2 separate regions of the Homo sapiens genome follow, and region 1 is linked to region 2. A link means that fine-mapping ties the variant in region 2 to the plasma level of a protein whose gene starts in the linked region. Region 2 holds a variant in brackets. A gene starts in the other region. All regions are shown on their reverse strands. Region 1 holds the start of CD27 (CD27 molecule). Region 2 overlaps LOC105370355 (a long non-coding RNA gene).

Evidence for each region. A credible set is the group of variants that fine-mapping cannot tell apart. PIP is the chance, under the fine-mapping model, that this variant and not a neighbour inherited with it causes the effect. Protein levels are from antibody-based Olink assays in UK Biobank. Linkage for the fine-mapping came from a reference panel and not from the study's own genotypes, which makes the PIPs less certain.
Region 1: CD27 starts here. The variant in region 2 is the best candidate, but not a certain one, in a credible set for the plasma level of the CD27 protein (UK Biobank, PIP 0.54).

The regions. Positions count from the first base shown.
Region 1 is chr12:6,434,819-6,449,468 of GRCh38, reverse strand. It overlaps CD27 (CD27 molecule), which reads right to left and starts at 4,514. Exons shown (of 6, transcript NM_001242.5): 1 at 4,238-4,514; 2 at 3,914-4,045. The coding sequence starts at 4,373. CD27-AS1 (CD27 antisense RNA 1) reads left to right here. Exons shown (of 6, transcript NR_015382.2): 2 at 732-829; 3 at 1,319-1,432; 4 at 2,382-2,508; 5 at 5,752-5,923; 6 at 9,793-10,468. It also overlaps the pseudogene SRP14P1. RefSeq lists enhancers at 3,234-3,353, 4,063-4,242, 4,273-4,332, 3,877-4,378, 5,283-5,332 and 2 more and silencers at 6,413-6,492, 6,593-6,732.
Region 2 is chr13:108,343,695-108,357,412 of GRCh38, reverse strand. The region is part of intron 2 of LOC105370355 (a long non-coding RNA gene); the gene reads right to left. Among named protein-coding and RNA genes, the nearest start is that of TNFSF13B, 81 kb to the right of the region's middle. The variant G/A (reference allele first, on the strand shown) is at 5,956.

The sequences.
Region 1 (14,650 bases), not on the chromosome of region 2:
ATAACCAGCAGCAGATCAACAAATATAAAATAGCCGGGTGAGGCAGGGAATTGCTTGAACCCGGGAGGTGGAAGTTGCAGTGAGCCGAGATCACGCCACTGCACTCCAGCCTGGGCAACAGAGTGAAACTCCGTCTCAAAAAAAAAAAAAAAAGAAAAGAAAGAAAGAAAATAGCCAGGTGCAGTGGCTTACGCCTGTAATCCCAGCACTTTGGGAGGTTGAGGTGGGTGGATTGCTTGAGCTCAGGAGTTTGAGACCAGCCTGGCCAACATGGTGAAACCCCGTCTCTACAAAAAATACAAAAATTAGCTGGGTGTGGTGGTGCACACCTGTAGGCCCAAGCTACTGGGGAGGCTGAGGTGGGAGGATCGCTTGAGCCCGGGAGGTGGAGGTTACAGTGAGCTGAGATCATGATACTGCGCTCCAGCCTGGGTGACAGAGTGAGATCCTGTCTCAAACACCACCAACAAAAAACAAAACAAAGTATATTAGGGATTCCCAGGGGCTGGGGCTGGGGCTGGGGTTGGTTGGGGGGAAGAAATGGGGAGTCATTGCTAAGGGGTACAAGTTTCTCTGGGGTAACGAAAATGTTATAGAATTAGATAGTGTTGATGGCTGCACAACCTGTGGATACACTAAAATAAATAAATAATAAATAGTTACTTGATTACAGTTACTTAGCCTTTATTTTGTTTGTTTGTTTTTTGACAGAGTCTTGCTTTGTCGCCCAGGTTGGAGTGCAGTGGCACGATCTCGGCTCAGTGCAACCTCCGCCTCCTGAGTTCAAGTGATTCTCCTGCCTCAGCCTCCCTAGTAGCTGGGATTACAGGTGTGTGCCACCACACCTGGCTAATTTTTTGTATTTTTAGTAGAGACGGGGTTTCACCGTGTTAGCCAGGATGGTCTCAATCTCCTGACCTCGTGATCCGCCCGCCTTGGCCTCCCAAAGTGCTGGGATTACAGGCGTGAGAATTTGCCTTTAAAATATACATTTTGCTCAAGTGTAGAGGTCCGATGCTGGGTGGCTGGGTGTTAATTATCCTGGGGGCGGGTGTGGTAGGGCACTAGCTGGGCTGGGCTGGGCTCGCTGGCGGCTGGTTTGAGAGGAGGGTGATTCAGAGGAAGGCAGTGACACCCAGATGTGGGACAGGCTGCAAGAAAGCCTGGTGGGCCTTAGGGCAGACACTTGTGGGGACCCGGGGAGCCCTAGGTGCCCTGACAGGTGGAAGAGGGGTGCAGAAAGGGAGGATGTCAAAGAGAGAATGTCAAAGGTCATAACCAAACCTAACAATTTTCTTCTACTTATGCCTTTTGTCAGGACAAGGAGAGGGACAAATTCCTTCTTGGCATCCTTATGGCCCTGTGACCTGCTAATGAATGCTGACTCTGAGTTGCTACTAGAATTTGGTTTCCTTGTGGCTTCCCAGGAATTGTGAGCCATGTTGGATAAGGACCTGCAAGGGAAGAATGAGGAAGCCTGGGACAGTGCAGGAGGGGAGAGCACTGGTGGTAGAGAGGAGTGATGACAAGGGTCTCCGCCAAAAGGGAAATGGAGGGGTTAAAGAAGCTGCTGGGGAGGGTTAAAAACAATGTGTTCTCACTCGTAGGTGGGAATTGAACAATGAGAACACTTGGACACAGGAAGGGGAACATCACACACTGGGGCCTGTCGTGGGGTGTGGGGAGGGAGGAGGGATAGCATTAGGAGATATACCTAATGTAAATGATGAGTTAATGGGTGCAGCACACCAACATGGCACATGTATACCTATGTAACAAACCTGCACATTGTGTACATGTACCCTAGAACTTAAAGTATAATTAAAAAACAAAACAAAACAAAACAAAAACAATGAGGTGCTATTGTTTTAGTGGTGAGTATCCGGAGACCTGGGAGTTCTATTTACCAGGTATAACCTGGGCTCAAAATTCCAGGCTGACTTCAGGCATGTCCTCATCTCATAGATGCCAGCACTAAGGCCCAGAGAGGGCCGAGCTCATTCAGCCCACCCATCTTCTCACCCCTGACTGCATTTCCCGGGGGTCCTTCTGCAGCCAGGTGCTGCTGTGGTACTTTGGGATCTATTGGCTGAGCTCCCAGAGAAGGGTCATGGATTGGGCTAGTTTGGAACAAGTGAAGGGACTGAAGATGGGCTCAGTATGGGGCGAAGACCTTCAGGAAGGGTCTGCAGAGTGAGTAGGGGGGTTTTGACTAGGAAAAGTTCCAACCCTGCCGGGGCCGCTGTCAAGAGAAAAGCATCTATTACAGTTACATTTTTAAGTTAAGTAGACTGAAGAATATTTCTTGTGTATTAAAGACGTTCCTTTTTGGTTGATTTGCAATGGAAAAGCTTTTGTTTTCTTTTTTTTTTTGGAAACAGGGTCTCACTCTGCTCACTCTGTCTCCCAAGCTGGAGTGCAGTGGTACAGTCACGGCTCACTGCAGCCTCCACTTCCTGGACTCAAGTGATCTTCTCACTTCAGCCTTCTGAGTAGCTGGGACTACAGGTTCGTGCCACCACGCCTGGCTAACTTTTTGTATTTTTAGTAGAGACAGGGTTTTGCCATGTTGCCCAGGGTGTTCTTAAACTCCTGGGCTCAAGGGATCCGCCTGCCTTGGCCTCCTAAAGTGCTGGGATTACAAGTGTGAGCCACTGCTCTGGCTTTTTGTGTGTGTGTGTGTGTGTGTGTGAAAAAGGGTTTTGCTCTGTTACCCAGGCTGGAGTGCAGTGATGTGAGCAGCCTGGACCTCTTGGGGACCTCTTGGGCTCAAGTGATCTTCCCATCTCAGCCTCCCAAGTAGCTGGGACTGCAGGTGCACTACCATGACCAGCCAATTTTTTTAGAGACAAGGTCTCACTATGTTGCCCAGCTGGTCTCAAGCTCCTGGGCTCAAGTCTCTACAAAATATGCAAATACCCTTCTGCCTTGGCCTCCCAAGTGCTGGGATTATAGGCATGAGCCACCACATCTGGTGTTGGTTTTTGTTTTTGTTTTTACGGGACCAGGCACTACAGCTCACACCTGTAATCCTGGCACTTTCAGAGGCTGAGACTAGAAGATTGCTTGAGCCCAGGAGTTCAAGGCTGTGGGGAGCTATGATTGCACCACTGCACTCCAGCCTGGGTGACAGAGCTAGACCTTGTCTCTAAACTAAACAAAACAAAACCCAGTACCAAGAGACCCAGTGACACCAAACACGTTTTGCAAGTAGGTAGTTTAATAGTTACAGTTACCTGGTTCTAAAAAGTGTCTTGCTAGAGAACATTTGTTCAAAGGGGCCACTTTAAAGCCTGCTATTCTAGTGTATACTGGCCGTAGTTTCTGAAATTGTAGCGAAGATGGAGAAATAATAACAGCATTCATAAGCACAACTGCAGATATTATACTTCTTAGTTTAAAAAAAACCTTTTTTTTTGGAACTATAAAATAAAAACACAGGCTACATACATACTCATTTTCTCAAATTGGCTTTTGTGCAAAAAAAGGTTGTTACCTATTGGGTTGCTTTGTTATTTCCTTAGAAAGATGTATTCCAAATTCCCAATGGCCAACCTGCACATGTGCACTCTGGGAACACAGTCAGTTTATTGGTTGGGGGTTGCTTGCCCGAAATCTGGGGTCATAGAGCCACTTCTCTCATTTTATTGTCTTGATCCTATCCATAGACCCGTTCTCACCAATCCCTCAAATTCTATTTATCCCTTTCCTGGAATACTAGATGTCTGCCCACGTTAATTCATGCCCCACCTAGGGTGCCGCATTTCCCAGCATTGGCTCCACTTGCTGTGAGCCTTGAAGAAGGCCAAAGCTTTGGCCCCGTCATCCTCCTTGCACCCCCAAACCCGTCACCAGCCTTGCTCCCCCAGATGCTTGTCCATCGTCCCCACCTACACACCCTTGCCCACCTCACCAGAGTTACAGTGCCGACAGCTCTCACAGTGGGGCCGGGTGTGGTGGTCAGGAGAGAAGGAGACCCCCGGTATGCAAGGATCACACTGAGCAGCCTTTCTATGCTGGTCACAGTCCTTCACGAGGAATGTTCCTGGGAGGAGAGGGTAAGGGATCAAGGCCTGAGAAGGGCTGGTTCTCTGCCCTCTTCAAGGTGGTGCCTCCCCACAGCTGCAGGATTTCCCTCCTTGCTTGAGCTCAGTCTCACCCTGCGCCTATTTACTGTATTAACCCCAGTCCTCTCTCTTTCGCCACTCACCTGGCCCTTACCAAGGCCCCCTCTTACCTGGCTCACACATCTGGCAGCACAGCTTTCCCTGAGCCCAGTAGTGCCTCTCTGGGCAGCTCTTGGGGGCTGGAGTAGCTGAGAGCCCCACCAGGGTCCCCAGAACGCACAGCCACCAGGGATGTGGCCGTGCCATGGTCCCTGCCCAGGCGGCTCCTTTCTGTGCCCAGTTGCTGATGCTGGCCTCTGGAGTTAGCACCTCCAAGCTGGGCGCTGCTGTCTCTTCTTTGCACCCCCTGGGCAGTGGCTGCTTCAGGTGGCAAGCCAACCTTTGAAGGCAGAATCTCTATTGTGGCTGTTTTTTTTTTCTCTCTCATAGCAGCAACCTCCACCCCCTTCCCCTTCCGTGTGCTGGGGAGAGTATTAAAGAGCAAACTCTGTGAGACCTGCTGCTCTTCAAACATGCTTCCTCCAACACATGAGCCTTCCTTAGTTTCCGCCTCTCCTGCTCATGAAGCACGTAGCCCACTGACTCCTGCTTCTTTGACAAAAAGGTGATGGACACACAGTTGCTCACCCCTCCTATTCATGCACTTGTGCACAAAGGTGCCCACGTTACCCCCCCCCACCCACCCCCCCGTCCACAGTTTACAGACGAATTCGCAGGACTCCTGTCTCCCATACCTGCATCCCTCCTTTCACAGACAACAGTTGAAAGAAGGAAGGAGAACCAGAATTGAGCACAGGTCCACAAGCTCTTATCTGAAACTTTGGGGGTCAGATAAGTTTTGGAATTCAGAATTTTTCAGGTTTATACAGAAACCAGCACCACAAAACACCCTTGGGGAGTTGGGGTAGTCTCATAATCAAACGCAACATTTCTGCAGCAAAACTATTGAATATTTACACCAACTGGGAGGAAGCTTAAATAGCCTTGTCTCAATTGAGGTCTGGTTTGATGGCCAAACGAGTTTGCTACAGAATGCTCAGAATTGCAAGCAAGGGGTGTAGAGCTGCCTCTCTTCTGTCACACTCTGACCGATCACCTATGCTCTCCTTTAATCCTCATGTCAGTCTCTGATGTGGGTGCCACCTACTGCCCACATGGCCTTCCCTCTCAGACCCTTGCTCACTCCTCACTTTTGTGCCATCTTTATCCTCCCCTTTCCCACCTCTGGCTGTGTCAGTCACTGGTGTCCTGGATCGCCTGGAGCATCTTCTCTCCTAGCCTTGGGCACTTGGGATTAAAGGTAGCTTCCTACGGGGGTCATCTCTTTTTTATTTTCCCAGTTCTCCCAGCAAGACTGATTTCGGGATATTGGAAACAGCTAGACTTTTCCCTCTTTGAGTCATGGGGACACACACGGGTCAACAGCCTCCTCCACTCTTTCCTCAGCAACCGATATGTGGAGTGGCTTATTTCCCCAGGAAGTTTTTAATTTAGGGGCTTTGCCGTTGTTTCCACACTGTTCATAAATGTCACACTGCTGTGGTCACACCTGTCAGATCTGTTCTCTATCTCACTCTGTAGTTTCCTTTCTCCTCATTTTCTCCATTCTCTTGTCTTTTCCCAGCCCCCTCTGCAGCTCTTCATGGGGGTCCACTCAAGTCAGAAGCCACATTTGGGTGTGATTCAGAGAGCTGTTTATGCAAAACCAGCTTTGTCACCATCAGGCAAGGCACCTGAATTCCCACCGCAGAGAGTGTTGTGGCCGTGAGGACTTTTCTGTCACCAGCCATTTCCAGGTTGTGGTAAATGTGTTCACTGCAGGCATGGGGCAGTGGGGTGGCTAGCTGACTGCAGGCCCTGGGAGGGTGGATGAGACCCTCAGAAGAATCATGAGGAACTGGGGACCTTTAGGAAGAAACTTGTCGAACAGGGACTTGCAGTTCGCTGAGCCTAGCAACCTTGAACCGACTGGGAACTGCTCACTAGCCTAACGCTGCTGTCCTCTGGGCCAAAGCCCATCTCCTCTTTTCTACATATCACTTCTCCAGGGGGTCAGAGCAGGAGCAGGGTCTGCCTGGCTTTCCTGGAGGGCCTCGGCCAAGAGGAGGAAGGCCAGGTTTCTGGACGTTTTTCTTTCCTAGGCAAATAGAATGAGCTCATCTCCAGCACTCTTTGCATCCACTTCTGGTGAGCCTTCCCCATCCTAGGCTGGCTCCCTGGACGGGACCTTCCTTTTTTTTTTTTTTCCTCCCTCCATTTCACTCTGTCACCCAGGCTAGAGTGCAATGATGCAATCTCAGCTCACTGCAACCTCTGTCTCCCAGGCTCAAGCCATTCTCACGCCTCAGCCTCCTGAGTAACTGGGATGACAGGTGCGTGCCACCACGCTCAGCTAATTTTTGTATTTTTAGTAGAGATGGAGTTTTGCCACGTTGGTCAGGCTGGCCTCAAGTTGATCCGCCCACCTTGGCTGGGATTACAGGGGAGAGCCACCGCGCCCAGCTTATTTTTTGTATTTTTAGTAGAGATGGGGTTTTGTCATGTTGGCCAGGCTGGACCAGAACACCTAGCCTCAGGTGATCTGCCTGCCTCGGCCTCCCAAAGTGCTGGGATTACAGGCACGAGCCACCATGCCTGGCTGGGCCCTTCCTTTTGTCTAGAGGCCCTGGGATGCAGCCCGCTGACATCTTCCTTGAAATCTCACACAACCACTTTCTCTTTTGGGGTCAGCCTCTCCCCCATGCCTGGCTGGGGCATAAAAACATATGGTATTTTCTCAACAGCTCCCTGCTTTTCTTTCCTTTCCAGAAACAGGCCCACAGCAGCCCTTCTTGAGAACTCTGAGGACTCTCATGACTTTTTTTGGTTCTTTTTTTTTTTTTTTTTTTTGAGAAAGGGTCTCTCACTGTTGCCCAGGCTGGAGTGCAGTGGCATGATCTCAGCTCACTGCAACCTTTGCCTCCCAGGTTCAAGCGATTCTTATACATCAGCCTCCCAAGTAGCTGGGATTATAGGCACCGGCCACCATACCCGGCTAATTTTTTGTATTTTTAGTAGAGACGGGGTTTCACTATGTTGGCCAGGCTGGTCTCAAACTCCTGGCCTCAAGTGATCTGCCCTCCTCGGCCTCCCAAAGTGTTGGGATTACAAGCGTGAGCCACTGTGCCTGGCCTCTCATGACTTTTGAGAGGGCCTGACCAACCCTCCACCTGGCCCAGTGACTGTAGCCTAGATGTCAGCCAGGGGCACCCTGCTCCTTAAAATCTAGATAAGATGCTCTTTGCTTCCCACTCAGGGCAAGTCCTGGGCAGGCTGTCCACCTGCATGAGTTCCAGTAGGTTGGGTGTTCTTGTGGCTGCCTCTGGCTCTGATTTCTCTTTCAGCTAAAGTCTTGTTCTTGCCTCCGTGTCTCCTGTCTGTTCCCTTACCTGTACCCTGCCTCAGGCCCAAATTGTTGGACACAAGACTTGCTTAAAGTTTCCTCTAAACCAGCTCTAAACAGAAGGCTGTTAGGTGTGGCAGACTTTGTCTTTTTTCTCCAATTTTTATGAATCAATAACCTGTTAAAGCGCTCAGCAGGACCAGTCTCTGCAAGACCTTTCCTTAGGAGGAAGTTCTGTTATGGGACAAAGATGTCCGCAATCACTGTTCCTGACTTAGGCTTCCTGAGTCTCATCACCTGAAGCTCTGAGTTTGTCTGGCCCTCTTTGTCCCCTGCTCCCCATTGCTTCCTCCCCGACTCCCACTTTCTTCGATGACCACCACCAGCACTGCTGCCCCCACCACCTTAAAGCCTCCTTCCCAGCAAGGCTTTGAGAGGCCACCTGGTCAGGACAGTGAGTTAAGCTCATTAATGAGGTTCTGGGTCCTCGCAGCTCTGTAATTTTCATTTCTGCACCTCCCCAGTCTGGGTGACACAGGAGACTGACCAACTATGGGTATTTCCAGCCTCTGCCCACTCCTCAGAAGCCCAGCACAGCTCCCAGTGTCTCCTAGCACGTAAGGCACTGGCTAAACATTGGATGGTCCAGCTCAGCTTTGTGCTGTAGCGGCTCTGTCCACAATTATAAAATGGAAACGTCAGAGGGCTCAAGGCCCCTTAGACCTCCTCATTCATTTGACAAGCGTTTTTTGCACATTCATTTTGTGTTAGGAACCAGCCAAGTAATGGGGCACAAAGATGAAAAACAAACAGACAAATATGTGGTTTCTGCCCTGACGGAGTTGACACACCAGTGTGAGAGTCAGACATCGATCATATAATCTCAAAGACAAATGTAAAATTGGCCAGGTGAGGCGGCTCACACCTGGAATCCCAGTCACGTTGGGAGGCCGAGGCGGAAGGATTGCTTGAGCCTAGGAGTTTAAGACCAGCCTGGGCAACAGAGTGACACCCCGTCTCTACACATAATAAAAATAAATTAACTGGGTGTGGTGGCACGTGCCTGTGGTCCCAGCCACTCGGAAGGCTGAGGTGGGAGGATCACTTGAGCCCAGGGGGTCGAGGTTGCAGTGAGCCATGATCATGCCAGTGCACTCAAGCCTGGGAGATAGAGCAAGACCTCATCTCACAAAACCCAAAAAACAAAACAAAATTAAAATTAGTTAGTAATGGTCATTATTGCTATGAAGGAGAGAGTTGGGGTGCAATATAGGTGTCTATACCCCTAATAGGGGGATTTAAGGGGTAGGGAGTGCCTCATCCAGGAAGCAAAGTTTAACAGAGATATGTGGGATCTGGCAGCTCTCCACCTACATGAGAATTATTACTTCCCTTGGTTTCTGTGACACGATTCTATTTTCCTTGCTTTGACCACTTGTTTTTTAAGTGCTATTTTTTATTTTTTTATATACAGATTATATACAATAGGGATAATCTGTTCCTTGAAAGCCTGGTAGAACTTGATTTGCTTGTGTGTAGCTGTTTCACTGTTATTATTATTATTTTTTTTAGGCTGTCTTGCTCTGTTGCCCAGGCTGGAGTGCAGTGGCATGATCTTGGCTCACTGCAACCTCCTCCTCCTGAGGTCAAGTGATTCTCCTGCCTCAGCCTCCTTAGTAGCTGGGATTACAGGTGTGCGCCACCACACCTGGCTAATTTTTGTATTGTTAGTAGAGACGTGGTTTCACCATGTTGGTCAGGCTTGTCTCGAACTCTTGAGCTCAAGTGATCCACCTACCTTGGCCTCTCAAAGTGCTGGGATTACAGATGTGAGCCACTGCACCCGGCATACTTTGCCATTCTTTTTCTAATGTATTGGATGCTTAATTAATTTAGAAATTTCTTATTTTCTAATATATGCATTTAAGGCTATAAACTTCCCTTGAAGATCTACTTTAGCTACATCTCATCAGCTTTGCTATATTGTTTTTTTCATTATTGTTGATTTGCTTTTCCCGTTATTATTTATTTTTACCTATATTTCATTTATAAATGCATTACAAATTTTCCAGATCTGTGGGGCTTAACTTTTTGTTGTTTATTATTTTAATTTTAAATTTATTGTGGCCCGAGCACTCTGTCTGTGTAGCATGGCAGGCAGCACGTTGGTCCCCCGAGGACATCTGCGCCCCTGAACTGCATGTTAATATGGCAAAGGGGAGTTAAGGCTGCAGATGGAATCAAGGTTGGCCTTGCAATGGGTGATTATTCTGCATTATCCAGGTAGACCCAGTGTAATCACAAGCATCCTTGTAAGTGGCAAAGAGGCAGAGGAGACAGCGCCAGAGAGGCAGCTGCATGAGAAGGATCAAGATGTTGCTGACTTTGAAGTTGGAAGAAGAAGGCCATGAGCCTCAGTATGTGGGCGGCTTCTAGAAGCTGGAAGGGGCAAGGAGATGGATTTGACCCTTCAGCCTCCAGGGGCAGCTGTACCTGCCATCACTGATTGTAGCCTGGTGAGGCCTGTTTTAGACTTCTGACCTGTAGAGCTGTAACATAATACATTTGGGTTGTTTTCAACCACTAAGTTTGTGGTAATTTGTTGTAGCAGCTGTAGAAAATGAATACATATGAATCCTCTGGCATTTGTTTGAGATTTGCTCTATGGCCTAGTATGTGGTTGTAAATGTTCCATCTGTGCCTGAAAAAATGTATATTTCTAATTCAGTAGTCTCTGCTTTTTTTTTTTATTTTGTACCCCATCAATAAAATGATTTTCAGCATGTATCCCCAAATAAACAATATTTTATTTATTGATTGATTGATAAACAGACATGTTTAATGATAGCTTGCTTTTCACAGAGGTGACTTCGGAGACTTCTAATCTATAATCCAGGAGTATATAACCATGCAGCACAGACCAATTAGTCACATGTAAAATAAACTAGATTCTTACCACAACTACCCTGTAAACATGGCAACTATTCTTTCCAAGAGGACCCTAATCTTATGTGAAAACACCTACTGTGGGGGAACCAGAAACCTAGCTATGTGGCCAAAAGTAAAAACCAAAGGAAAAAATAGCAATTCAGTGGTTAATTGGTGAAAGCAGGGAATTTGTGCCCTTTACTGTGCTGCTGCTTTGGTCTTTTTCCTTTTGCTCTTTTTGTCCCTCTTCTCAGCCCGTCCATGTTAGCTCTCAGTAGGTTTGAATAAGCCATCTGAAACTTACTCACTTCCTTGGAGTTCACCACAGTGCTCATCTTCTTTTTCCCATCGATAGCTCTTAACAGACACTTGTTGTCTGAGGGCTCAAAGCCCTCCACAGAACCTTTCTTTGGAATGGGTTTGGTTCGACCATCATACTTCTTCAAGGTGATATAGACGCTGCCCAACGTCCGGCACTTCTGGTAGAGTCTGGTCAGCTCCGTCAGGAATTGCTTGCTCTCCAACGACATCACTGCGGCGACGCTGGCTCGACTCCCCACAATATTTTAAATAAATTAATCATATATTATATACTCAAATAGGTTCTATGTAAGTATATGTAGACATTCTAAAGTTCTAAAGGATGAGATCGAATTACATAGTCACATACAGAAACATAAAAAGGATGAGATTGGCTAGATGCAGTGGCTCATGCCTGTAATCCCAGCACTTTGGGAAGCTGAGGTGGGAGGATCGATGAGCTCAGGAGTTTGAGACCAGTGTGGGCAACAACAACAAAATAATAAAAGTAAAATAAAAACAATGAGATAAGGATAGGAAAAACAATTTTTAAAGATATCACATTTACTTATTTGCAACATAAAAGATCTAGTTGCTCTCATTAAAATATTAATAGGTAACAAAATTTTCCACAATATAATAAAACATTAACAGTAATATATTTAGTAAGAGCAATATGATTTAATGTGTTTTGTTATTAAAAAACTTTCCTCAACACTTTATATAGATTGATCTGAGTCTAAGCACAAATATTTGATTTTTATGACTGACTTAGATGAAAAAGTTTCTCTAGGTCAGACTGTTTCAGGTGTGTTTTCTAATTTTGAATCAAAAGTGCATCTTCAAGCCCATCACAGTGGCTCACACCATAATCTCAGCACTTGGGGAGGCTGAGGCAGGAGGATGGCTTGAGGCCAGGAGTTTGAGACCAGCCTGGGCAACACAGTGAGACCCCACTGTACTCCAGTGCCGGTGACGGAGTGTGACCCCATCTCCATTAAAGAGAGAGAGAGAGGGAAAGAAAGTGCATATTCAACAGGCTTTTTCTGTGGGCCACCTTGGTGGTTGGGTTGAGTACATGTCCCTTCAGTGTTTTTGCAGTTGCTTTTGTCAGACGCCCCAGGGATGTCACTGGCTTGAGACCAGTTTTCATGTTCTTTTCTTGGGGATAAAGGAGGTTTCCCAACCACGTGGGTAATATAAATTTTACCCCCATACCTGGCCGAGCACAGACCTATAGTTATGTTTTTGTTGTTGTTGTTGTTTTTTTTTTGAGACGGAGTCTCGCTCTGTCACCCAGGCTGGAGTGCAGTGGCGCGATCTCGGCTCACTGCAAGCTCCGCCTCCTGGGTTCAGGCCATTCTCTCGCCTCAGCCTCCCAAGTAGATGGGACTACAGGCGCCCGCCACCACGCCCGGCTAATATTTTTGTATTTTTAGTAGAGACAGGGTTTCACCGTGTTCATCAGGATGGTCTCAATCTCCTGACCTCGTGATCCGCCTGCCTCGGCCTCCCAAAGTGCTGGGATTATAGGCGTGAGCCACCATGCCCAGCCTCTTTTTTTGTTTGTTTGTTTGTTTGAGACAGGGTCTCCCTCTGTTGCCTAGGTTGGAGTGCAGTGGCAACACAGCTCAATACAGCCTCAATCTCCTGGGCTCAAGCAATCCTCTTGCCTCAGCCTCTCGAGTAGCTGGGACCACACCTGGCTAATTTTTTTTTTTATTTGTTATCTTTTTGTAGAGACAAAGTCTTGCTATGTAGCCCAGGCTGGCCTTAAATTCCTGGGCTCAAGCAATCCTCCCACCTTTGCCTCCCGAAGTGCTGGGATTACAAGGCGTGAGCCTGGTCACACTTTCTTTTTTGGGACTTGTCACACTTGTGATTTTACGTGATCTGTGATTTATAGGATTAATTTTGATCTGAGGTAAAGCTAATTTCTGAAATCAGATATTATGTAAATTGTTAGGTGTAAGGTTTGAGTGCTGACTACTGAGGTTTTCTGACTCTCAGTCTATGTAGCCAGGGAAGGGCAAGACCTATAAAAGGAATTTCTCAGATACCAGGCAAGGGGAGAAACAGTGAGGGAAAGATGTCGCTATGAAGGGAGCAGTCTTGACCTGGAACTGAAGGGTGGTTCCAGGGCCCAAACCCACTGAGACAGGAGGATCCTGGGATAGGTGGAGAGAGCTTGACTTTCACAACCAGACAGGTTGGTGGTCCAAATGCCTCTCTGCCGGCTACTACCCGCATCATGTCCAGCATGTCCCACAACCTCTTGACTGAGTCCTCATCTGCTTGAGGATAGTGTCGTGCACTTTGCAGCATGTTGGGACAATTAAGGGTAACAATAGAAATGAAATGTCTGGTCTTGTCTTGTTTGGGTACTCAATAAATATTCATTCCTCCTCTCTCTTCCTTGGTATTTGAGGCTGCAAGTCCCAAGAAATGGGGTTGAGGGAACAGCTAGTTAACCTGGGAACGAAACCAAAGGAGTGTGAAAGAGACAGAACGACTCACTAAATTGAACAAGCTGTGCATAGGCGATATGTCTGCTCTGTATGTATTATTCATACTCGGTTCTTCATCACGCAGAATCATGATTTCACAAGGCGACGGGACGTTTCCTCTCACAGTAGGCTCCTGGGCCCCTGGCATTTTTTTTCTTTCTTTTTTTGAGATGGAGTCTCACTCTGTCACCGAGGCTGGAGTGCAGTGGCAAGATCTTGGCTCACTGCAACCTCCACCTCCCAGGTTCAAGCAATTCTCCTGTCTCAGCCTCCCAAGTAGCTGGGATCACAGGCATGCGCTACCACTCCTGGCTAATTTTTGTATTCTTAGTAGAGACGGGGTTTCACCATGTTGACCAGGCTGGTCTGAACTCCTGACCTCAGGTGATCCACCCGCCTTGGCCTCCCAAAGTGCTAGGATTAGAGGCGTAAGCCACTGTGCCCAACTGCCCCTGGCATTTTCTACTCGCTTTTTTTTTTTTTTTTTGAAACAGGGTCTTGCTCTGTCACCCAGGCTGGAGTGCAGTGGCACCATCTCGGCTCACTGTAGCCTCGACCTTCTGAACTCAAGCAATCCTCCTGCTTCAGCCCCCCAAAATATCTGTGACTATAGGCATGCGCCACCAAGCCCAGATAATTAATTAATTTATTTTTTTTGAGATGGAGTTCCGCTCTTGCTGCCTAGGCTGGAGTGCAATGGCGCGATCTCTGCTCACTGCAACCTCTCCCTCCTGGGTTCAAGCGATTCTCCCGCCTCAGCCTCCAGAGTAGCTAGGATTACAGGCATGCGCCACCACGCCCAGCTAATTTTGTATTTTTAGTAGAGACAGGGTTTCTCCATGTTGTTCAGGCTGGTCTCAAACTCCCGATGTCAGGTGATCCGCCAGCCTTGGCCTCCCAAAGTGCTGGGATTACAAGCGTGAGCCACCGTGCCCTGCAAGCCCAGCTAATTTTTGTATTTTTTGTAGAGATGGAGTTTCACCATGTTCCCCAGGCTGGTCTCGAACTCTTGAGCTCAAGTGATCTGCCCACCTTTGCCTCCTAAAATGCTGGGATTACAGGTGTGAGCCACCGTGCTGGGTGGCTGGGCCATTCTTGCTCTTCTGAGTGACTTCCCTTGCTCACCAGATGAGGGAAATGGCTCATGGAGCCAGTCTGGTGATCCTCCCTGTGGCGGGGAGGGAGGCACGCCCCACTTTCCCCAGCTGTTTCTGAGCCTCATGACTGTGAGCCCTGAGAGGGACCTAAGACCTTTGTTTCCCCTGCTAGTCCGTGGTGCGGTGTCTGAGCCTGAGCTCTTAGGGCAGCTTCCTTCCTAGGGCCGTGCTGGAGCCTGCTAGTACTGCCTAGCCAAAGCCCGATCCTTACATTTTCAGGAATTTTGTGAGGTTACTCGTTGGTAGCTT
Region 2 (13,718 bases):
AATTAAGAATTTTAAAAAATACAGCTTTTAAAATTTATGTTGTTTTATGTTATAAATACCATTTATATTTCTTCAAAGTTTGGATTTGTGATATTATCTAATCTTTATTATCCTGCCTTAAATATTATTTAAGTTTTAATTTAAATAATTTTTGATTTATATCCACTTATAAATTACACAACGATCATTCCAGCAATATCTACCTAATGCACTTGCAGTTACTTTTGCTATCACTTTTCAATCTCTATGTGTATTTGTTAGTTACATGAAAGTTCCTAATTATTTTATACATAAATTACCATCATCACAAATTATCGCATTTGACTTTTGCAATAATAAATACAGTGTATAATTATATTTCAACTACAAAATCTCAATATATGAAATACATAAGGAGATGCTCACGTCGAGTTACAGCCAAAATACCTTATTTGATATGAATATTGATAATGCATTTTAAGATGTTAATAATATTTTGAGATCTATAAGAAAAATGCTTAAGATATAAGATATTAACAATAATTCTAAGTAATATGCTACAATGGTAAATAATTTTAAGAATCAAATGTATGTCCTTACAATCATTGATTATTGATAATTTCAAGATGCCAGGTATAATACTGATGAATAGTCAATTTTAGTTTAATACATATATGTCTAAAAAATATATATACATACACAAAAAGTGTTCAAAAGGCTCATGAAAAATGTGTATGATGAAAAAAATATGCATGGATTTCAAAACTTTTTTGTACTAAAATAAAACTTGCACTACTTTGTTATATGTCTGAACAGGATCTAGTTTGAAGTACTAAGAAGAAAGCACTTTGAAAAGATCCTCTATCAGAGGAACATAACTTCTGCTCAAATTGAAGCAAGGACAAATGTCAAATTTATGAGGAAGCTTCTGGAAAAATGGTGCTATCACTGATGCTTTATGAAAAGTTTATGGGGACAATGTCCCAAAGAAATCAGCAGTTTATACATGGACAACTCATTTTAATAAGGGACAAGATGATATTGAAGACGAAGCCTGCATGGGCAGGCCATTCACATCAATTTGCAAAGAAAAAATGTTATTGTTTTACCCAAATTGAAGAGGACTGACGATTAGCAGCAGAAACACAAGCCAATGCCACCGACATCTCACCTGGTTCAGCTTTCACAATTCTTTCTGAAAAATTAAAGTTGAGAAAATTTTCCACCTAATGACCAAAATTTTTGCATCCAGATCAGCGGCAGACAAGAACAGAGCTTTCAATGGAAATTTTAAACAAGGGGGATCAAGATCCTGAAGAATTTCTTTGAAGAATTGTAACAGAAGATGAAACATGCTTTACCAGTATGATCCTGAAGGCAAAGCATAATCAAAGCAATGGCTACTGAGAGGTGAAAGTGGGCCAGTCAAAGCAAAAGCAGACAGGTCAAGAGCAAAGGTCACGTCAATAGCTTCTTGGGGATGCTCAAGGCATTTTCCTTGTTGACTTTCTTCAGGGCCAAAGAATGATAACTTCTGCTTATTCTGAGACTGTTTTGAGAAATTTAGCCAAAATTCTGTCAATGCCTATAATTTTAAAATTTTAAATATATATTCAATATTAATTTAATATTTTAATATACATAAATATATACTTAATTTTATAACAATATTTGTATCAGCAGAATTACTAATGACTAAACACCTCATTTTTGCCTACTTCAACCCTTCTCCTCTTTACACACTAAAGACTTGGATTTTATGGTTCTTTAATATTTAGACTCAAGTTTGAACTTTAACGAAGTCAGGTGATTCATTGTGAGCATTGAATGGAAGCTGCTCCCAAAAGTGGGACTGGAATTCCTCTGACATCTAGTAAACACCACAGACCTAATAGGAACCTCAAACGTTGACCAAGCCTCTGCTCCAGTCCTGCCCCTCTGCCTGTTCCCACGGGGCTTTAAAAAAAAAAATTATTACTAATTCTCTAGTCACTCAGTATCATATCTTTAATTATTACCTGTTTGTTGACAAGTTTCATATTTATATCTGAAGCTCAGATTTTTCCCCAAACTCCAGAAAATATATATCCACCTGTCCACTGATCCCCACATTTGGAATCATACTAGCACCAAAAACTTACGCCCTAAAGCAAATTTACATATCCCTACCCACATGATCTCATCTCACAATCTTCCCAAACTCAAGTAACAGCAACTCTATTTTCCTGAGTCTTCTCTTCCTCTCACCTCCTTATTCCTTACAGCAGCACATCATCCTGTGTTTTCTTATTATCTTCATGGTCAACTCCTTTATCAAAGCCACCATGAGCTCTCCCCTTAGGTATTGCTCTAACTTTCTGCCCGATTCTACCATGGCTTCTCTGTAGTATATTCTCAACACAGCAGTCAGGATGAACCTGTTAAAGCATACATCATACCTTATCCCTCCTATGTGAAAAACTCCACAAGAGACTCCCATGTCAGAGTAAAAGCCAGGCTCTACAAGGCTCCCTATTGCCTGACCTCTTTACTTTTCAGCCTCCTCCTCGTTTTCTGCACTCCAGGTGCACTGGCCTCTCTCTAGCTCTCCAGACATGCCGGCCACCCACACCCCAATGCTCTTCTACTTCCTGCTTCCTTTCTGCCCTCATTCCTTTTAGCTGCATGCATAGCTCCCTCGTTTCCTTCAGTTTTCACCCAAAAGTCACCCTCTGTGTGATGTTTTCTCTGGCCATGCTACCTCAATGTCAACACCCACTCCTCTCCCCAGCTCTGACGTTTCATATGCCTGCTCCATTTTAAACATTTCCTCCTAAGTGCTTGCCACTATTGCGTGTGCTGTGTGTTTTGTTTATTATCTATCCCTTCCATTGAAATGTAAGCTCCCTGAGCAGAGATTTTTGTATGTTTTGTTCCTTACTGCATCTCCCAAAACTAGAACAGGACCCAGAACATAATAGCCCACCAATTAAAATCTGCTTCACAATTCTGCACAGTGCTTCAAGGATGAGTCTTCAAAGATTGCGATCTGGGCAGCAAGGCATAAGATTATGGTTTTGCACATGCAACACTAAAAGAGCATATCAAGGAAGTAAATTCAATTAAATAAATGAACAAAGAAACAAAGTTGATTTTCATATTGAAATCAATGCATGGATCAGCTAACTTAGCCTATGGAGACATAAACTAAATGCCCCTTTGCATGTCTGAGTCATGATCTGTTTATATATCAAAAGCATATGCAGCAAAGTAGTGCATGGATCAATGTTCTTATAAATGAAGTTCCCTTAAATATCATTTGTTGGTCAGAAACAGAAATACCAGCTTCTCCGACATGGATATTGGACATGTGAATGTACGGTGACAGCTCTGATGGCTAACATAGCATTCTTATAAAATGAAAAAGCACAATACAGTTCCTCACTACTGAGAGCCCTAGGCTGCAACCATTCCTCAGATTGAAGAAAATGTTTGGTGATCTCGTGAGTACCACACTGCCTGTTGTTCAGAAGATGGGTTAAATACTAACAAGGGGTCATCGCCCTCCTTGGATGGCTATTACCATCTGCATGACCCCTTCTCTGGTTTCATCTGTAGAAAAGGTAAAAATAAAAATAAAAATAATGTAAATGTGTCGGGGAGCCAAACAGTACTGCAGGAATTACGCCCTAGTTGCTGGCCATGCACGGTAAAGAGGTAGATTAATATTTAACTAATATCTACCCAGTTTCCCCCTGCAGAGATGGACTCCAGCAACCTTGAAGACTGACAGTTTATTGAAAAGAGGCCCCACATCTTCCCCATCTTTGAATATTGTGAGTCTGACATTTGTCTTGCATGTACTCAAAAAAAATGATCATTGATGGAGTGAGATATGTAAAGCTTTTAGAACAAACTACTGTGTGTCAATTTTCTATTTAATATTTTAAATAGAAGCTGATGGGTCCCCAAAATAAACCCATTAGAACAAAGCAAGTGAACAGACCTCACCAGTATATCTGTCAGCCTTACTTACAATTTTTCATACAAGAGCTATACCGTTAGTTATTCTGTCAATATTATATTGATGAAGAGGAAAGCTAAATTCATCTTCCTGTCTTTCTTTCTGTGCAGGCTTCCACTCAGTGATTCTTCAATTACCTAGTTCAATGACAGGACATTTTTTACTACCCTATTTTCTGTACATCAAGTTTCAAAATATTTCAGGTACTTCCAACAATTTGTCTTCATTGACATTACATAGTTTTGACCATTTGTGTATATCACTTTGGACATAAGTGCCTTCCTCAGCTGAGAGACCTCTGAGAGTCTCCAGTGAGAAGTTAAAGGCTGTATTTTGACTTTAAATGTAATGGCCATCAGAGGATTAGCTCAGAAAAAGGAACTCTTGGCAAAGACTTTGAGTTATATTTCCAGTGTAACAAATTCCAGAAATGAATGACATTCTTTTTTCTATGGTGGTCATAGAATTCCAGATTCTTTGAAACAAAATAGAAGATAATTCGAGCTCTCAAATAAAGAATTATATTTCCCGCAGGCAAGGGGATGAATTGTGATAGTCGGGTAATACATTGTCTTCTGGCAAAGCCATACCAAACTCTCTAGAGAAAAAATTGCACAATTTCCCTCAGCAAACAGTCACAATCCACATCTGTTACTTTCAGGGAAAATAGAACTTGAACACCACATTCTCTGTGACTCTCTTCTTGTTCTGTCATCTTTAACAGTGAAAGCAGCCAGCTTCTGCTCTTTAGTATTGAAGGTCATTCTTTATTTTTGCTCCAACTTTAGCTTCTCCAGCTTAGATAATTCATAGTGATGCTTGGATTTATAGCAAACCAAATGGATTAAAAAAATATTATTAACATGATGAGAATAAAAATGGCAATGTTAAGTATTCCCAACATTCAAAGCTTTCTATCAAAATGGTTATTTAGTGATTTATTTTCCATTATTTTCTCATGAAGTTTGTATGTTTTCATTTCAAAATTTTTAATTGTCTGAACTTCTTTGTGTGCTGGTCTTGTTCTTTCCATTCCAAACACTTCTTCCCTTTTTTTTTCATGCCTAACTTTGCCCATGAATGCTAGCCAAAACTTATATTTTCAGAGCGCATTTTAAAGAAACAGCCATGAATTTACTGAGATTTGAGAGTATTCCAAGAAGATCCTAAAACACAAAATTATTTTTTTCTTTGTTTAACATAATAGTAAAATTACACTATGAGATATGTATCCTTTGGGTTAAACACTATCCTCACTACAGGAGTTTTATTTAAAATTTAAAGCGTAAACTTTTATGGGTCTAAAGCACTAGAGATGTGAGGGGGATAGTGTGATAGACAGGAAGGAGATATGGCTTATTTGCTGGTTATTATTCTCTAGATATGTTTACATCTATTTTTACTTAATATCTGGAACATGAGTACACTGAGCTTTAGAAAACTTATATAACTTGTCCTAAATAACATCTAGTGACTATCAGATTCTGAACCTGGTCAGTAAGAGTATAAGGAAACGATAAAAAACCAGCTTCATCCTCTTTAAATTCAGTGCTCACATTAAAATGATGGGTTGCATTATCCAATTAAATTAAGATTATAGGCACAGAGGCTGGGCACAGTGGCTCATACCTGTAATCCCAGTACTTTGGGAAGCTGTGGCAGGTGGATCACCTGAGGTCAGGAGTTTGAGACCAGCCTGCCCAACATGGTGAAACCCCATCCCTACTAAAAATACAAAAATCAGCTGGGCATGGTGGGGCATGCCTGTAATCCCAGCTACTCGGGAGGCTGAGGCAGGAGAATTGCTTGAACTCCGGAGGTAGAGGCTGCAGTGAGCCGAAATCGCGCCACTGCACTCCAGCCTGAGTGACGGAGCAAGACTCTGTCTCAGAAAAAAAAAAGAAAAAGAAAAGAAAAGAAAAGAAAAGAAAAGAAAGAAAAGATTATAGGCACAAAGACAAACTGTAGTAAAG[G/A]CAAAATACATTGCCAAAATATCCCAAAACATCCTTCACTTCTCTCTATTCAAATTAGTTGTTTGGCCCTATTCAGGAAGAAATACAGTGTGGGGAGGCTGCAGTTCCTCTGAATCATATACACTTGAGTTAAATTACATATTTTTCACTTCCTAGTTGTGTGACTTTGGGAAAATTATTTAATCTTGCTGAAATCGCAGAGCCCTAGTTGATAAAATAAGGATTGTTCTGAAAATAAAATGATTTTGAGAATGAAGAATAAAATGAGAATAAATATTCCTCTTGGAATACCTGGCACTAAATATTTACCACATAAACTAATGTAAGAATAATATACAATCATAACAATAGAAACCATAATAACAGACAGCCTCAGGAAAAAAAAAAAAAAAAGCAAGGCACTGCTTCCTGGACCTTCCAAGTCAATGGAGAGCTTGTAAAACGTAAAACAGAAATCCTCATGTAACGTGAAGACATTTATATTCACTCTTGCATTCAGGCTTATCTATGTTTTGTGTTTCAATAAAGACATGTTGCATTACACAGTTTCATTAGACTTTACAGCTAATCTAGCGTGTGTTTTTAAGAAGATTTACTCCCCAGTCATCCTTGTCGAACAGCGGTACGTCTGCTGTGGCCCAAGTGAGCTCCACCTGCTGCATTAGGCAAGCAGCAGCTGAGGGACACGGCACACCCGGAAACGCAGCCCCTCCCCTGGTGCCGCTCCCTGTTGACTACTCCATCAACTTGGGAACACTCTGGGTTGCATTTTGAGCTACAGATCTCCAGTTTCCCTTGAGTGAGTATTAAACTGCAGAGCTGATGACCGTGAACCAGATTACCATAAAGAGGATGGAAGGTCCACATGATGAACACTGGTGCCAGGAGCTGAGAAAGAGGAGGACGATGGTGTGAGAGAAAAACGACAGATAGCTAAACAAACAGCACATTTTGCCTACTATAACTGTACAGCAAGAGAGGAAAGAACATGAGGCCGGGAACGTATTAATATCTGCAACGCACATGGTGGGCATGAGTGGCTCTGGGCAGATGATCAAGCAGGCCATGCCTGACCTCAAGTTTTGCCTCCTCAAGAATCAGAGCTCTTCACAGGTTCTTAGAACCCTCTGTCTTTCCATGCCTTGCTTCCCCAAGCTCTCTCGTCCTAGCTACCTTCAGCACTTTTACTTTTCTCCCCTTCAACAAAGTCTTTGTATTTCTGCCAACTTTTTCCTAAAACATATAGACAATTGTCATCCTTCAGCCAAATAGAAAAAAAGTGGCTCCCCGTTTTCCCCATAAGGTTGAATTTACACTCCTTATGTGACATGCAAAGATGTTCACAGTCAAAAAGCCACCTCACTCACCAGCCTATCCCCTAGCACTCTGTTCTTGCCAACCACCCAGACACGTGGGACCACTGATGGGATGCTTCACTCCTGCCTGAGATTTTAAATATTCCCCTTTATGTAGAAAGTCATTGTGCCAGCACCACTTTTTAAATAAGCTACCCTTGCCGGGTGCGGTGGCTCATGCCTGTATTCCCAGCATTTTGGGAGGCCGAGGCAGGTGGATCACTTTAGGTCAGGAGTTCGAGACCAGCCTGGCCAACATGGTGAAACCCCGACTCTACTAAAAATACAAAAAAATTAGCCAGTCGTGGTGGCACATGCCTGTAATCCCATCTATTCGGGAGGCTGGGGCAGGAGAATTGCTTGAACCCAGGAGGTGGAGGTTGCAGTGAGCTGAGATCTCACCACTTCACTCCAGCCTAGGTGACAGAGACTCCGTCTAAAAAAAAAAAAATTAAGCTACCTTTTGCCACTGAACTAGAATACAGTTTTTTGTCTAATATTTTATCTCATGTATACTGGGCTTTGGTCCTTGCTTCTATTTGGTTAAAACTATTTGGTGTACTACTTGGTTAAACTAATCTATTTATCTATCCCAATGCCGTATTAAGTTGACTCCAGTGGCTTTGCAGTATTTGCTGACATCTGTTAAATATGTTTTAAAAAGCATTGTCATGGCTATTCCCAAAGTTTTGAATTTTCATATGCATTTTAAGATCATTTTATTCAGTTCTAAATTGGGTACACTCTGCTGGATTTTAATTGTAATTTCATTAAATTTTTATATGAATATTGAGGGAATTGACTGCTAAGGTATAAATAACACTCTGAATCTTGACTGGCTTTTTGAAAATGTCAGATACATTTTCATTTCTTTATTAAAAGCCTTATTAATACGTTTGCCAAAAGGACATGACAAATCATAGCCATTCTGGACATCCTAAGGGCGTTTGCCTTTTTATAGCTTTTTGAGAACAAGAAAAGAATGATAAATGTTAAAAAGAAATAGTGGTGGGGAATTTCTTGGTGGCTGACAATCACTTAACTATTATCACTTTACACATCCTCCAAAACACTGTATAGGTCACCAGCGAAAACAAATAAAACCACACTAATACTATGCCTTCAGAAAAATGACATAATAGAAAACACAGCAAGTTCAACAATAGTAATATGTCAGAGCTGAAACCAATCATATCCACCATATCCACATTTTCAACTCGGCTCACAAGGCAAGAGCCAACCACACGCTACACGCAAGAGACACACCCAAAACAAAGTGACTCAGAAAGACTAAAGGGTCTACAAAATGCACAAGGCAAATAGAATCAATGAGAAAATCGGGATGGTGGTCCTGACAGCACCCAGAAGAGAATTTGAGTAAAAACATTCAGTGGGACAAATTAAACACCATTTAATCATTTTAAATATTTCACATTAATATATAGAAGGTATTCATACTTATGCACCAAGTAACACATCAACTTGTTCATAAAGTGGAAACTATGAGAGATGAATGATAGACAGAAACATATTCTCGGTGTGAGAGATATCAGATGGACAAAAAATACGGAAGGGTATTAAAGAGCCCCAAGTACAAGCCTAGACAGTTTCCCCTTAACCACACACACACACACACACACACACACACAGAGAGAGAGAGAGAGAGAGAGAGAGAGAGACATATACACCCATATAAACTATGAGCAGAAAGTAACAAAGTGTTAAAAAAGAAAAGAAAAGAAAGTGTCAGGGTAATAGGACATGTCAGAAGAGTACAGGAGCCAGCTGAAAGTATCAACAAAGGCCAAAGCTGAAACACTTTGAGCATTAAGTAATGTCGGATTATAACCCAAATATAAACATCCACGGATTCAAAAGATATAAATGGTTGAATAAATTAATAAATATGAGAGAAGAGACAAATCTCTCATACAGTAAAATTTCCCATAATTTATGTAGATACCCGCCCCCAACCCCTGCAAAGAGGTGAAGCCTAACTTCGCATTCCTTGGTGTGGGCTGCACTTAGTGACTTCCTTCCTGGTGCTCAAGGCCAACATTAAGGGTTAAAAATCATGTTGATAATATCTCCACTGCATAGGATGTGATAACAATGCGACTTTTACTCTGTGGTCTTCCCCCCAGTAACTCCTCATCCCACTCTTCTCATGAGAAAAACATCAGACAAATCCCAATAGCAGGCATCCTGCAAAATCCCTGAGCAGTACTCCTCAAAACTATCAAAGTCATTGCACACAAGGAGCAAGGAACATCTGAGAAACTGGCACAGCCACAAGGAGCCTAAAGGGACAGACACCCAGATGCCATGTGGTATCCTGAATGGGATCCTGGAACAGAAAAAGGATAACAGGTAAAAACCAAGGAAACCCGAGTAAAAGATGAAATATGGTTCATAATCCATCATTCTGAGCAAACTATCACAAGGACAGAAAACCAAACACTGCATGTTCTCACTCATAGTTGGGAACTGAACAATGAGAACACTTGGACACAGGGCGGGGAACATCACACACCGGGGCCTGTCGGGGGATGGGGGACTGGGGGAGGGATAGCATTAGGAGAAATACCTAAAGTAAATGACGAGTTGATGGGTGCAGCACACCAACATGGCATGTGTACACCTATGTAACAAACCTGCACGTTGTGCACATGTACCCTAGAACTTAAAGTATAATAATAAAAAAAAGAAATATGGTTCATAATAATATATCAACATTGCTTTAGTATTTGTAACATATGGTACAGAGTATATAAAAACTATATTATTTTCTCTTTTTTTCTGTAAATGTAAAACTCTTCTGAAAAACAAATTGTACTATAAAGAAAAAAAAGAAAGCATGGTGACTTCGAGCTACTGAAGGGTTCAGATTCTAATGCAGTGTTTCCCAGTTCCTACTAAGATATTTTCCCGGATTTGTTGCTGGCAAAATATGCCCAGGTTTTTTGTTTGAAAAGGAGTTTTTGGTCTGTGAGAGATAAGACAGGAGGTCCATTTGCAAACAGTTCCTTAAAGCAGGTAACTGTTCACTTCCTTAGGAAGGCTGGCCTCACGTGAGGTCCTGTCCTAAATAAACATTTTGTTATTGTTGGTGTGTATGAATTCATTATTACTGACAGCCAGGGAGTCATTTGGTGATTAAAAAACAACAGGATGGAAGGTCATTTTTATTGGCATTATGTACTTAATCATGCAGTCAATGGCTTTTATAGTTAAGCAGTAAAATAAAGCGCCATCAATTGAACAGAATATACAGAATGCTCCAATTGACAAAATCGACACATTTTCATGCTACTGCTGCCTTTTCTCTCTTCTTCCTTTTGCAGGTAAACTTACTGAATGAAGTGAAATCTGCTCAACACCCCCACTATCTTATCTTCCGCATTTATTGATCTCCAGCAATCAGCCTTGTGCTCCTGCAGGATTGAAGCTGCCCCCACGAAGGTCAACCACACCGAGGCTGCTCTCTCCCTCTGAGTTACACGCCTCCCTTTCACACTTCTTTCTGAGTCACCGGGTCTGCCGCACCTGCACAAGGGCCATCCTTCCTGTCAGCTCTGCCTGCTCAGCATCTGCACAGCCCATTCGCTTCTCCCCTCTCTCTCCATGACTGCCAAAGTTCAAGCCCTCTTAACTAATTTTCTTTTCCTCTCTCACTCCGACAAACCATCTATGGCAGTGATTCCAATGTAATCTTAAAAGTAAATGTATACCTATGTAACAAACCTGCACGTTGTGCACATGTACCCTAAAACTTAAAGTATAATTTAAAAAAGTAAAAGTAATAATATCACTTTATCATTCACAATAAATCCCTTATTTAATTCCCATTGCCTCCCAGTAAGGTTGAACTCCTTAACATATCATATGAGGACATAATGAATAAACACCTTTTCCAGGCAGATTTAAGCCCTCTTATTACTTATGTCCCCGCTTCCCCATCCCAACACTTAATCTTTTGTAAAGTTTCACCACACTGTCTGTACATTTCTTTTTGTACAGGAATATAGAAATACCAGAATTGAGGTGATCAAGGATATGTTAGAAGTTTTAACCTCAAAATTGTTGAAAGAATGGTTGGTTGAATTAATTTAAAAACCTTGAAAACTTTTAGAATTACAGATATTAGATAAGAACCACCTCAGTGTCTTGAGAATAATACACTGCCTACCACTCACTGGGATAAAATATAAAACGTAAGACTCCCGACCTTAGGAGAGCTCAACAGTCTCAGCGGACAGGCTGATACATAAACAACTAAATTCACACCAAAGGCATGAAGTAAATCACAGCAATAACACAAAGATCCAACATTTATGGAGCACTTAGGATGGACCACACTGAAAATTATTCCACATATTTCATGTCATTCAGTCCTCACAATTATTGAAGATATATACTGTTAGTAGTCCCATTTTACAGATACGGTGGTACACCTAGCTTAAGTGAGTCTCCCAAGTCATGCAGCTGGTAAATTAAGGATCTGGGTTTGATCCCGTTTGGCTGATTACAAAGCCTGCCCATGGAACTGGAGGATATGAAGCATACTTTTGAAACCGACTTCACAGTTATACTTTGTAAATACTGCCAAAGGGTCACATAGTGAGAAAGGGAACACAGAGTTTTTCGTAGATGTAAAATGTTTACTAAGTTTCATTAGCTGTATTTATGAGTAACGGAGGCTGCGGTGGATTTCCTATTTCCATCACAGGAATACTTCTGCCCACTTCTATATTCTCCCTTGTATTTACAGGGGCTGAAACCCTGAAACCTACATTTTCCGGTTGCCAGCAGGATTTTAACTTAGACTGCACCACCAGGAGGCACCCACTCAGGCATCAGAATCAGGAAGAGGAGTGGCAGCCTCTATGCTTCCATCAGGAGCAGGCAGATGTGTGAGCTTCCACAGCCGGTGGATATGGAGTGCGGGAAGCTGCCGCTTCCAAGGAGGTTCCTGCAGATCACCTGCGTTGGTCCGCAGGTCGCTGAGATCATCAGCCAGCCATGTGTTCCTGCGATTCTTGACTTCCTGAAACCAGCAGCCATTTTCCTTTCTGTTTACTTTCCCAGGCATTCTGACAGTTTTCTAACCTCCATTTCATGTGTTAAATCTTCTCAACTTGAAGCACTTAGAATGATTCCTGAAAAATGCTTATTGATACTCAGGCCCTGTATTACTTTTCTAGGGCTGCCATAAGAAAGTATGGACTGGGCTGCTTAAACTACAGAGATGTATTATATCAGAGTTCTTGAGGCTAGAAATCCAAGATTGAGGTGTCAAGGTGGTTCCTTTTGAGGGCTGTGTGGGAAGGCTCTGTCTCAGGCCTTTCTTCTTGGCTTGTAGAGAGCTGTTTCCATGTTTACCTGGCATTCTCCCAGTGTGTGCACCTGTGTCCAAATTCTCCTTCTATAAAGAACCAGTCTTTTTGGATTGGGGCTTACACTAACGACCTCACATTAACTTGGTTACTTCAGTAAAGACCCCATCTCCAAAGAAGAGCACATCCTGAGGTAGTGGGGTAAGACCTTGACCAGATCATTTTCGGAGGGACAAAATGCAACTCATAAAATGCCTGAAATGGGCTGGGCACAGTGGCTCATGCCTGTAATCCCAGCACTTTGGGAGGCCGAGGTGGGCGAGTCACTTGAGGTCAGGAGTTCTAGTCCAGCCTGGCCAACATAGTGAAACCCTGTCTCTACTAAAAATACAAAAATTAACCAGGTGTAGTGGAGCATGCCTGTAATTCCAGCTACTCGGAAGGCTGAGGCAGGAGAATGGCTTGAACCCAGGTGGTGGAGGTTGCAGTGAGCCCAGAATGTGCCAGTGCACTCCAGCCTGGGAGACAAAGTGTTTCAAAAAACAAACAAACAAACAAACAACAACAAAGAAACAGTGATTTATACAAGATAGAAATTAATGAAATTAATTCAATTCATTCTTTCTCATGGAATTCAGGGAGGGTATATCCACAGCTGGTTTACTGTTCTACAATATCCTCAGAGAGCCAAGTTCTATTTTGTCTCAGTTGTGCATGGTTATCTTTTCCAAATTCATCTCATAAATCAAAACTATTACTCCAGCACCAGGTATGATGCTATTCCAGCTAACAGGAAATGGTAATGGGCAAAGAAGAAAACAGTAAAGAACAGGAGCTAGATAACTTTTAGGGAAGTTTCACCAAAACTGTTCACATTTTCCATTACCTTCTGTTGCCTATAAGTATATCAAATAGCCACATCCATCTTCAGGGTGGGACACTGAGCAATGTAACCTTCTGAGAAGTAATTAACCTGGCATAAACTTCTGTTACCAAAAAAGAAGAGAAAGCATATTGGAAGTTGCCTAGCAAAATGTGCCAGGCTGAAAATACTCCAGAATTATAGGCTGTG